Linked DNA regions of Homo sapiens. The protein of the gene in region 1 purifies or fractionates together with the protein of each later gene. This does not show direct contact. Each region holds a gene or a part of one and is shown in the gene's direction. Other genes may lie near its edges.

Region 1 (3,651 bases):
GTGAGAATTTGGCATGCTGTAAGAACTCTTTTAGGCCAGTGTGGCCAGAATATAATAGCAGTAGGGGTATAAGTGGGAGGTAGGGAGAAGTTGGCAAGGGTTACCTCGTGAAGGAATTTGATTCTAAGAGTGGTAAGAAGTCACTGAAGGATCTTAAACTAGAGATTCAATTTATACTTTAAAAAGATCATTTTGGATTTTTTGTTGAGTATATTATAGTGCAGGAGTAGAACTTACAAGACCAGCTGCAGGCTGCCACTGCAATGGACTGAGATGGGCCAGAAATCGTGATATCTTGTATAGGGCAGGAACAGTACAAATGGAGAAATATAGATGACTTTGAGATGTATTTCATAGGTAGAGTGAATAGGTTAATAGGATCTGCTATGGTGAATTGGAAGGAAGAGCAAGAACCAGGGTTAAAGGGAAAGGTAAAATTAGGATGACAGATTTCTGGCTTGAGCAGTTGGGTGGTGCCATGAGTTAGGGAAGACTGGAGGAGGATAGGTTTGTGATGGTGAAATCAAGAGTTCTCTTTTAGCTACACATATCCAAGTACTAGCTCAATGTCTGGCCTGGAGAAGATAATCAGCTCTTTTGCCCACCACCAAATCTAGCTGCACATGATTTCATTTCATTTCATAATGATGTAATTATTTCAGTCATTGGAAATGGATGCAGTAAGGTCACTGAAGTCAAAAAGTTAACATAAAGTTTGGCAGGTAGCCACTAGACCAGTTTGTTTGGCATAGTATTTGGGGTGACAAAGTTGGTGCAATGTATCATAAAGTGGGGAAGGACCCTTGGGGCACTAGGATTTGTTTCTTACTTTCTTTTTTTTTTTTTTTGAGACGGAGTCTCTGTTGCCCAGGCTGGAGCGCAATGGCGCAATCTTGGCTCACTGCAACCTCTGCCTCCTGGGTTCAAGCAATTCTCCTGCCTCAGCCTCCCAAGTAGCTGGGATTATAGGCACCCGCCACCATGCCTGGCTAATATTTTTAGTAGAGACGGAGTTTCACCATGTTGGTCAGGCTCGTCTTGAACTCATGACTTTAAGCAATCCACCTGCCTCGGCCTCCCAAAGTGCTGGGATTACAGGCGTGAGCCACTATGCCCAGCTAGATCTCATTTTAAAATATGAAAGACCTTTAGATGTTCATTTATATTTGTTTCTGTTCTAGGCTCTGTACAAAATGAGCTAAGTAGCTAAGGTATGTGCATTCCAGGTCATCTGTCTTAGATAATCATACAGAAAGGAAATCATAGACTTTACAGTATATATTAAATAACTACCAGTTGACTTGCTAATGAAAGGGAAAGTTTGTATGAATTTAAAACTCTAGACCAGCACTGTTTAACAGAACTCTCTGTAATAATAGGAATGTTCTATACCTGGGATGTCCAGTGTGGTAACTGCCGCCACGTGTATCTGTTGAATGCTTGAAATGTGGCTAACGTCACTACGGAACTGAATTTTTTATTTTTTTATTTTTTTGAGACGGAGTCTTGCTCTGTCACCCAGGCTGGAGTGCAGTGGTGCAATCTTGGCTCATGGTAACCTCCGCCTCCCGGATTCAAGCAATTCTCCTGCTGCAGTCTCCCAAGTAGCTGGGACTATAGGTGCACGCTGCCACACCCAGCTAATTTTTTGTGTTTAGTAGAGACGAGGTTTCACCATGTTGCCCAGGCTGGTTGCAAACTCCTGAGCTCAGGCAATCCGCATGCCTCTGCCTCCCAGAGTGCTGGGATTACCGGCATGAGCCACCATGTCCGGCCTTTTTTTTTTTTTTTGAGACAGAGTCTCGCTCTGTTGCCCAGGCTGGGGTGCAGTGGTGTGATCTCGGCTCACTGCAACCTCCGTCTCCCGGGTTCACGCCATTCTCCTGCCTCAGCCTCCTGAGTAGCTGGGACTACAGGCACGTGCCACCACACCCTAATTTTTGTTTTTTTTAAGTAGAGATGGGGTTTTACCATGTTGGCCAAGCTGGTCTCGAACTCGTGACCTAAGGTGATCCACCCGCCTTGGCCTCCCAAAATGTTGGGTTTACAGGCGCGAGCCACTACGCCCAGCCTGAATATTTAATTCTATTTAAATTTTTTTTTTTTGGGCCGAGGTCTCTGTCACCCAGACTGAAGTACAGTGGTGCAATTTTGGCTCACTGCAACGTCCGCCTCCCAGGCTCAGTTGATCTCCCACCTCAGCCTCCCATGTAGCTGGGACCACAAGCTAATTTCTGTATTTTCAGTAGAGACGGGGTTTCACCATGTTGCCCACACTGTTGAACTTGTGGGCTCAAGTGTTCTGCCCACCTTGGCCTCCCAAAGTGCTGGGATTACAAGCCTGAGCCCTTGTGAGCCCTTGTGCCCAGTAATTTTTTTTTTTTTTTTTTTTTTGAGATGGAGTCTCGCTCTGTCTCCCAGTCTGGAGTGCAGTGGCGCAATCTCGGCTCACTGCAAGCTCCGCCTCCTGGGTTCACACCGTTCTCCTTCCTCAGTGTCCTGAGTAGCTGGGACTACAGATGCCTGCTACCATGGCTGGCTAAATTTTTGTATTTTTAGTAGAGACGGGGTTTCTCCATGTTAGCCAGGATAGTCTCGATCTGACCTCGTGATCCACCTGCCTCAATTTAAGTAGTCGTGTGTGGCTTATACCTACTGTATTGAACAGTATCTAGGCAATCAACTTGTTAGCCACTTTTCTCCATTTGTACTGTTCTTGTCCCTAAACGAGCTCTCATGATTTCTGGCCCATCTCAGTCAACTGCAGTGGCTGCCTAGCTGGTCTTCTAAATTCCACTCCTGAGCTGTAGCCTACTAAACAAAAATTGAAAGTGATCTTTTAAAAATATTAGCTTGAGCCAAATCAACTTGCTTATGGAATATATTGTCCTTTTTTTTGAGACTGGGTCTTGCCGTGTCACCCAGACTGGAGTGCAGTGGCATGATCAGAGCTGACTGTAGCCTCAACCTCCTGGGCTCAAGCAAGCCATCCTCCCACTTCAGTTTCTGGGACTGCAGGCGCATACCACCATGCCTGGCTAATTTTTGTGTTTGTTTTAGAGACGGGGTTTTGCCATATTGCCAAACTGGTCTTGAACTTCTGGGCTTAAACAATCCTCCTTCAGCCTTCCAAAGTACTGGGATTACAAGTATGAATCACTGTGCCTGGCTATATTTGTCATTTATTTATTTATTTTTTGAGACCAGCTCACTCCTGGGCTTAAGTGATCCTCCTGCTTCAGCCTCCCAAGTGCTGGGATTACAGGTGTGAATCACTGTGTCTGGCTGTATTTGTCATTTATTTATTTATTTTTGAGACCAGGTCTTGCTCTGTCACCCAGGCTGGAGTGCAGTGATGCAATCATGGCTCACTGCAGCCTTGACTTCCCGGGTTCCAGCAGTCCTCCCACCTTAGCCTCCTTAGTAGCTGGGATCACAGGTGTGTGCCACATGCCCAGCTAATTTTTGTATTTTTGGTAGAGACAGGGTTTCCTCATGTTGCCCAGGCTGGTCTTGAACTCCTGAGTTCAAGCAATCCACCTGCCTCGGCTTCCCAAAGTGGTGGTATTACAGGTGTGAGCCAGTGCACCTGGCCCATATTTATCTTAAAAAAAAAATAGATGTTTATCATTTTTTATATAGACTCATTGA
Region 2 (3,651 bases), on another chromosome or scaffold:
CCTAACATTAGTGTCATTCATTGGTTGCAGTTAATAAACAATGTTAATTCATTATAAGTAACTGAAGTCCATACGCTTTCACATTTCCTTTGTTTTTACCTGTCGTTGTTTTGCTCCAAAATATTTCATACATATAAATATATATCTATATATGTACGTGTATACATATATGTATTTAAATTTTTTGTAGAGATGGGGTCTCACTAAGTTGCCCAGCTGGTCTCAAACTCCTGGCCTCAAGCAGTCCTCCCCACTTGGCCTCCCAAAGCGCTGGGATTATAGGCATGAGCCACTGTGCCCTGCTCATCACATTATATTTAATAGTCATGTCTTCATGGGCAACTCCTCTCTCTCTCTGTCTCTGTCTCTCTCTCTCTCTCTGTTTCTGTCTGTGTCTCTGTCTCTTGTCTTTGAGACAGTGTCTTCCCGTCACCCAGACTGGTGTGCAGCGGTGTGATCACAGGTCACTGCAGCCTCGACCTCCTGGGCTCAAGTGAGCCTTTCACCTCAGCCTCCCAAGTAGCTGTGACTATAGGTGTATGCCACCATACCTAGCTATTAAGCAACTCTTGATTATAAATTTTCTTGTTTTTGATGACAATTTTGGGGGGTACTGATCAGGTATTTTGTGCAATGTCCCCCAGTTGAGATTTTTCTTATGTGTTTTCTCATGATTAGTCTAGGGTTATAGGTTTGGGAGAGAAAGACCAGAGAAGTAATGTGCCATTTTCATTATGTCATATCTGAAGTATTTACTATCAGTGTGGCTTATCCCTGTTGATGGGATACCTTTCATCACCTGCCTGAAATAATATTTTTAGCTTTTCTCCACTGTAAAGTTGCTCTTTCCTGAACTTTTCATTCTGTACTCCTTGGAAGGAATATGCATAGCCCACAACTAAGGAGAGGGTGGCTATACCTCCTTGAAGCCAGGGTATCTATATAAATTATTTTGAATTCTTCTGCATGGATTGATCTATTCTTCCCCTTTATTTGTTTATTCAATCATTTGTTAAACATTTTTACTGATACAAAAACTAATAACTTGATTAGAATCTCCAGGTTTATCAAAAGTGAAGAATTGGAAGCTTCCTGACTTGTAATAGAAGCTCTTCAAGATGTGTCAAATGACTGTTGATTATGTTTGTTACTCATTCCTTTGGGTACCTTGTTCCATCCAATTTATTTAGAAAGAGTTGAGAAAATAGATATATTAAAGATTTCAGCATATCTTACCAATATATTTTTTAAGACAAAAAATGTTACTTTCTTTCTAAATTCAAATAAATGTGTTTTTACACCTCACCTTGACAACCATCATCCCTCTGAATGTTTTTTTCTCATATTTCTTTTTTTTTTTTTTTTTTTAAGACAGGATCTTGCTCTGTCGCCCAGGCTGGAATGAAGCGGCGCGGTCACGGCTCAGCACAGCCTCAACCTCCCGGGCTTGAGCAATCCTTCCACTTTAGTCTCTTGGGTAGCTGGGACCACAGGCATGCATCACGGTGTCTGCTCAAGATTTTGTATTTTTTTTGTAGAGAGATGGGGTTTTGCTTTGTTTCCCAGGCCAGTCTCAAACTACTGGGCTCAAGCAATCCACTTGGCCTCCCAGAATGCTCAGATTATAGGTGTGCCCCAAAGCACCTGGACTAATTTTTAAGTTTTTTGTAAAGATGGGGTCTCACCATGTTGCCCAGGCTGGTCTGAAACCCATGGGCTCAAGTGATGCCCCTGCCTCAGCCTCCCAAAGTGTTGGGATTACAGGTGCTCACACTACACCCGCCTTCTGAATCTCTTATCTATACAAGAATAATACCTACCTCAGTAGGTTGTTGATAGAATTTAAGTGAATAATGCATGTAAACCTACTAGAATGGTGGATATTACCTGGCTGGCTTGGGTTGCAGCTATTATTTTCAAGGAATTTTTTGGGTCTAATGTGAAGCAGTCATTTGCTATCTATTAGAAGAGAAACACATTTCTTAGTTCCTCATATTTATTTCATTTTGCTACAGGGAGACATAATTGCTAGATGCCTGTATCGTAACCAGTTCAAGTAGTACATAATTTATCTTGGGTTCTAAATACATGAAAAGAACTAAAATAATTGTTTTGAGCTGTTTTTGAGATATTCTGTAATTGAGAATACGCTTTCTTTTTTTGAGGGGAAAAGTGTCCTACGTAGCAAATTATGTATACATGAATTATCTCGATAGACTCAATTTTAAATTAGTATTAAAAATTCTGAGTTGTAGGCCGGGCGCAGTGGCTCACGCCTGTAATCCCAGCACTTTGGGAGGCCAAGGTGGGCAGATCACCTGAGGTCGGGAGTTCAAGACTAGCCTGACCAACATGAAGAAACCCTGTCTCTACTAAAAATACAAAATTAGCTGGGCATGGTGGCACCTGCCTGTAATCCCAGCTACTCGGGAGGCTGAGGCAGGAGAATTGCTTGAACCTGGGAGGCGGAGGTTGCGGTGAGCCAGGATCGTGCCACTGCACTCCAGCCTGGGCAACAAGAGTGAAACGCTGTCTCAAAAAAAAAAAAAGTCTGAGTTTTATGTATTCTATATTACTCAAGAGTATGTTTGAGGGTGCTACGTCTTCAGAAGTAATTGTAGCACATTATTTTGACATTATAATTAGACAATGTGTATAAAAGTTTTTAAAAAATATTTTGGATGATTTGTTGAAAAAATTGCATCCAAAAAAATCCCCAGTTGTACTTTAATAATGATTCTGGTGCATGGATTTTCAGGACGAGTAATAACCCTAGATTAGAGGAAGTGGTAGCTATAATACTGGTGATTCTTGGTTTTGCTGGTTGAACGTTGAATCAAATGCTTACACCCTCTCCCTATTTGAGAAAATAAGCTTCCCCTTTCCTCAAATACAAAGCCCCAAACAAGATTTTCCTCATTGCATTTTTATGCTGCTTGGCTGGATAATGTATTGCCACCACCCATGGGAATTCAGGCTTTTTATCCTTTACTTCTCTTGCATTTACACGCAAATGATGTCATTTGCCTTATCTCAGCTTAAAGTATTATGAACATTTTTTCTTTTAAAATAGGCCTACTTCTCATGTAATCCAGTCTTTTGGAGGCAGAGGATTCCTTTTATACTTATCTGCCCATCTGAAACTGCCTTTGTTACTTTGGGTACTAGCATCATTTTGTTTCCTCACACTTGAGTCCCCAGGCCACCTGAGCCACAATTTAGGGACATTCCCCATACTCAAATCAAGATTGTTTTCCCTGCTTTTATGCTGCTTTGTTTAGAAGCTTCCCAACTACAACTAGTTATGTGGAGTTACACCTAACATCTTCACACAGCTCTACAAGGTATTTGGGTTGGAAATTGTTTACCTTCTTAGACTTTTTATCACTTAGTTCTATGTAATCATTGGGTAGTCCTTCAACATTTTGATCTTATTGGTGTTTTCGGGGGCTGTGGGATGTTTTGTACACTTTTTGGAACCTCACCTGTCTGGAATACCTGGTGGTGCTCAGAACTCTGAGCGGAAGTCAGGAAAGCACTACCTAATGAGCAGATGTGGAATACTTTCGCTTATCCCTTTTGTTTCTGTGTTCACTTGGTTGTGAGACAAGGGAGGTTTTAAAGTAGTAAACTGTTATATTTTCTAACAGG
Region 3 (3,651 bases), on another chromosome or scaffold:
GAGTGAATGCTTTTCCAAAGCATTGAGTTGGCCGTCTTAGGAAGGTACTATGGGGGAGCTGAAAACAGAGAACCTTCTGGGTGTTGTGAAGGGAGAAAAGTTCAAGATGCTGGTTTTGCCAAAAGCTCAAGCCTGCTCATGATGGCTCAGTGGTGACTGCAGGGTGGAGGAGAGGCATGTGACTGTCCCAGCTGACCTCCACACGCTGAAAGCCTCATGGTCACGTGCAGCCCACCTTACAACGTTGTATCTGGGCCACGGGTGGTGGTGAGGACTGTGGATATATTTAGGGCAATGTGAGATCATTGTCAACATTCCCTTTAAGGTTGCTTTAACCTTAAAGCAGCCAGCTTGATGCTTGCTGACTTGGGGCACACATCTTAACCTCTTGATGCCTCAGTTTCCCCGTCTGTTAAATGGTGACATGCTGGCACCTCCCTCCTAGGGTTTCTGTGAGGCTTAAAGGAAGTACCGGGTTTAGAGTCCAGTTAGTGCCACAGATACTGTTCCTGGTGCTGTTTTTGTGGTGTGTCTGTGTAGGGTTACATTGTTGCCTTCCTGTGGCTGCTCTTCCTGGTGGGCGGAACCTGGAACTTCTAGAACAGATCATGGATGTTTCTCTGCTGGATACCCCTTCAGCCTCACCCTGTGGGAGTTGTGGCGGGGCCCAGGAGAGTTTGCTCAAGAGGGTGTGCAGGTGGGTGGCAGAGCTGGAGCAAGGCACTAGTCTTAACAGACAGGAGTCTGAGGCTGGCAGAAGTGGGGGCCTTGGTCCAAGGTGCGGGGCTAATCTGGCCAGAGCTGAGCCTGGCAGGGCCTTGGTAAGACCCTGTGGCCCTTTTGTCTTGGTGAAGCACCTTCCTGCCTGGGTTTCCATTTGCCTGTAAGTTTGTTGTGGACAGCGTGATCTCCATAGACGTACACTGTGCCTACTTTACAGATGGAGAAACCAAGGCCCAGAGAGGAAGTGACTTGCTCAGAGTCATGGAATAGGAAAGTGGCAGGGTCCCCATGCCCTGATTCCTAGGCCAGCGTTCCTGCTGCCCCACTGAGGTTTTTGGGAATCACAGGCTCTGTGTGTCCCCCTCAGTCCCCCAGGGGCTGTTGAACAGTTCTCAAGTGGTGTCGGATTACTGAAGATGCCTCTGCCCACTGCCCTCCCAGGTCCCAGGGTCACGGGTCACGTTCTTTTCTTCCTCGGGCAGATCCTGGCCTTGGCTTTGCCTGGCACCTGTGATCCAGCTCTCCTCTGACTCTCCTGGGTCTGCTGGACTGGAAGGGTATTTGTGTAGCCCCTCTTGGGCCCTCATTACTCATTGACAGACAGTGCTGGTGGAGAGAAGGGCCCCAGTGGTGACGCACTGGGCCTGATAATCAGAAACCTTGGTGGCATTTGCTGAGCATTTTCCATGTGTCCCTCTCCTCGCTGGGACTCTAGGACTGAAACCCAGGCCACATCCTCACAGATGTCCTGGCATCTCCAAGGCAACCCTGAAAGGAAAGTATGTTGATGAATTAAGCAACTGTTTGCTTAATTCTCCATGCCATTCTTGAATTTAAGCCCCACTGCTGATCATTGGGAGCAGGAGTTAGCATGCCCATTGACAGACAAGCAAACTGAGGCAAAGAGGTTAGATAGCCAGGCATGGTGGCATATGCCTGTAATCTCAGCTACTCAGGAGGCCGGAGTAGGAGGATCACTTGAACCCAGGAGTTTGAGACCAGTCTGGGCAACATAGCAAGACCCTGTCTCTCTAAAAAACAAGATGAATAATACATTTTTAAAAAGAGATTCGATAAATTATGCAGGATCACAGAGCTAATAAATGGTGACACCATGGCCTGCAAGCCTTCCCCCAGCTCCTGGCTACCTTTCGCTTCTCTGGCATTGGTCTTCTCGGAATTCCTCCCAGGCAGGTGGATGGGAAAAGAAGTGAAGATACAGGCTGGCAGCTGGTGCTGTGACCTGGAGCCCTGTTTTTGGTGCTAAGCTGGGTTTTAGCTGAAGGAGACCTGCTGGAGGGGTTTCTTCTGTGCTTCTTGGGGAGCAAAGATGGCCTTGGAGATGGAGACACGGTTTGTCAGTCCCAAGCCACTCCAAAGGTGGGGCTGGTGGGCTAGGAGTCAGCCCTGGTTCCCCCGCCATGCTGTGTGTGGCCCTGCCTTGCCACCCCACCTGCTGGAGGACCTCTTTGATGCTTTCTAGTGGGTCCCAACATTCTGTGATTAGGACTTTGCATGAGGCAGAGGGAGGGCAGGAGCTGGAGTCCAGCAAGGACCTCAAGCCCAGGGACAGGCTCCACCTGCCACACTTGCTAAGCCGTGAGGGCCTCAGGTGCCCGGGAGGAGGGAGCAGGAGTGGAAGCACCAGCTCGAGCCGCCAAACCAGGTCACGTATCACCTGCCATTTCCTGCTGGCAGAAGGAGATCACAGACACCAGAAGACAGCAGCTTCTGCCAGAACTGGGTCCTTCCATGATTCTCAGGTGGTGACTTTGAATCCCAGAAAAAGTGTTTTGGGGAGAGTGGAGTGAAGGAAGAGTGTGAACATTGGATCTGACTCCACTCCAGCCCCTGTGCTGCAGCCAGCAGGGTGAGCTCAGGACAGCTGGCAGCCGCTTGGGCCCAGCCCCCTCCTCCGTGAATGAAGGTGGTGGGGAGTGCACGTGTGCGTGTGAGTGCGTGTGAGTATAAATGACTGTGGATGTGAGAGTCCATGAAAGTGAGAATGTATCAGTGTGTAAGAAAGTGTGAGTATGTGAGAATGAGTGTGTTTGTGAGAATGTATGTATGTGTGAGTATAAGTGTGTGAATGTGAGAATGTCTGAGTGTGAGAATGAAAGTTTGCAAGTGTGTCAGTGTGAGGGAATGTGTGAGTGCATTTGAGAGTGTGTGTGTGTGTGTGTGCGTGTGTGCACGCATGCACTAGATTAAATAAGAATGCATCCAACTGACATTTTCTGGATACTGTTACCTACTAGGAATTACTAAAATCAGCTATTCCAGAGGAGGGTGGATGTCGCACCAGGGGACATTTGGCAACGTTTGCAGATTCTTTTGCTGGTCGCAGCGTGGGGTGTATGCTGTGGGCATGTGGTGGGCAGAGGCCAGGGATGCTGCTGAGCCTCCTCCCGTGCTCAGGGCAGCCCCTAAGGCAGAGGCTGCTTGTGGGGCCCAAATGTCAGCAGTGCTGAGCTGAGGATCTCTGTCCAGGAGGCACAGACGCTGTCCTGGATGCTGTCCAGACAGCATCTGCTCTGCCCTCCAGGGGGACAGACAGACAGTGGACACAGCCCAGATGCAGCCTGATGAGTGAGCCCAAGGGAGTGCCTGTCCCCTCGGGACTGTGAGCTCCGTGGGGGCAGGAACTGGGTCTGTTTGCTCATGATCCCCAGATGAGTCCCATAGCCAGTCTCATCACCATAGCTGGTGTTATTTTTGTTCTGAGCTCTGTGTTGGGCACATAGAACCTAGTGGGTAGAAACCTCTGAATAAATCCTGAGTTTTCCATCCTGCTTCCGTGAACTCAGATGTTCTTTGAGGGCCAGCCTGGTGGCGTGGGGGCTGGGAGTGGGCAGATTGTAGGGAGCCAAGTCCTGGGGTGGAGTGGGGTTCAGGCCCCTTTCCCTGGCTTGAGCCGAAGCACCTTGG

The links.
Region 2: the proteins of KANSL3 (region 1) and UBE2R2 purify together in Homo sapiens (co-immunoprecipitation; one large-scale study listed by IntAct). This does not show direct contact.
Region 3: the proteins of KANSL3 (region 1) and NDRG1 purify together in Homo sapiens (co-immunoprecipitation; one large-scale study listed by IntAct). This does not show direct contact.

What each region holds. Positions count from the first base shown.
Region 1 is NC_000002.12:96,631,709-96,635,359, reverse strand, and holds part of KANSL3 (KAT8 regulatory NSL complex subunit 3), read left to right. Parts: intron 1-3,651. UniProt on the Homo sapiens protein: Non-catalytic component of the NSL histone acetyltransferase complex, a multiprotein complex that mediates histone H4 acetylation at 'Lys-5'- and 'Lys-8' (H4K5ac and H4K8ac) at transcription start sites and promotes transcription initiation.
Region 2 is NC_000009.12:33,900,564-33,904,214, forward strand, and holds part of UBE2R2 (ubiquitin-conjugating enzyme E2 R2), read left to right. Parts: intron 1-3,651. UniProt on the Homo sapiens protein: E2 ubiquitin-conjugating enzyme that accepts ubiquitin from an E1 ubiquitin-activating protein, and catalyzes its covalent attachment to other proteins by an E3 ubiquitin-protein ligase complex.
Region 3 is NC_000008.11:133,287,202-133,290,852, reverse strand, and holds part of NDRG1 (protein NDRG1), read left to right. Parts: intron 1-3,651. UniProt on the Homo sapiens protein: Stress-responsive protein involved in hormone responses, cell growth, and differentiation. Acts as a tumor suppressor in many cell types. Necessary but not sufficient for p53/TP53-mediated caspase activation and apoptosis.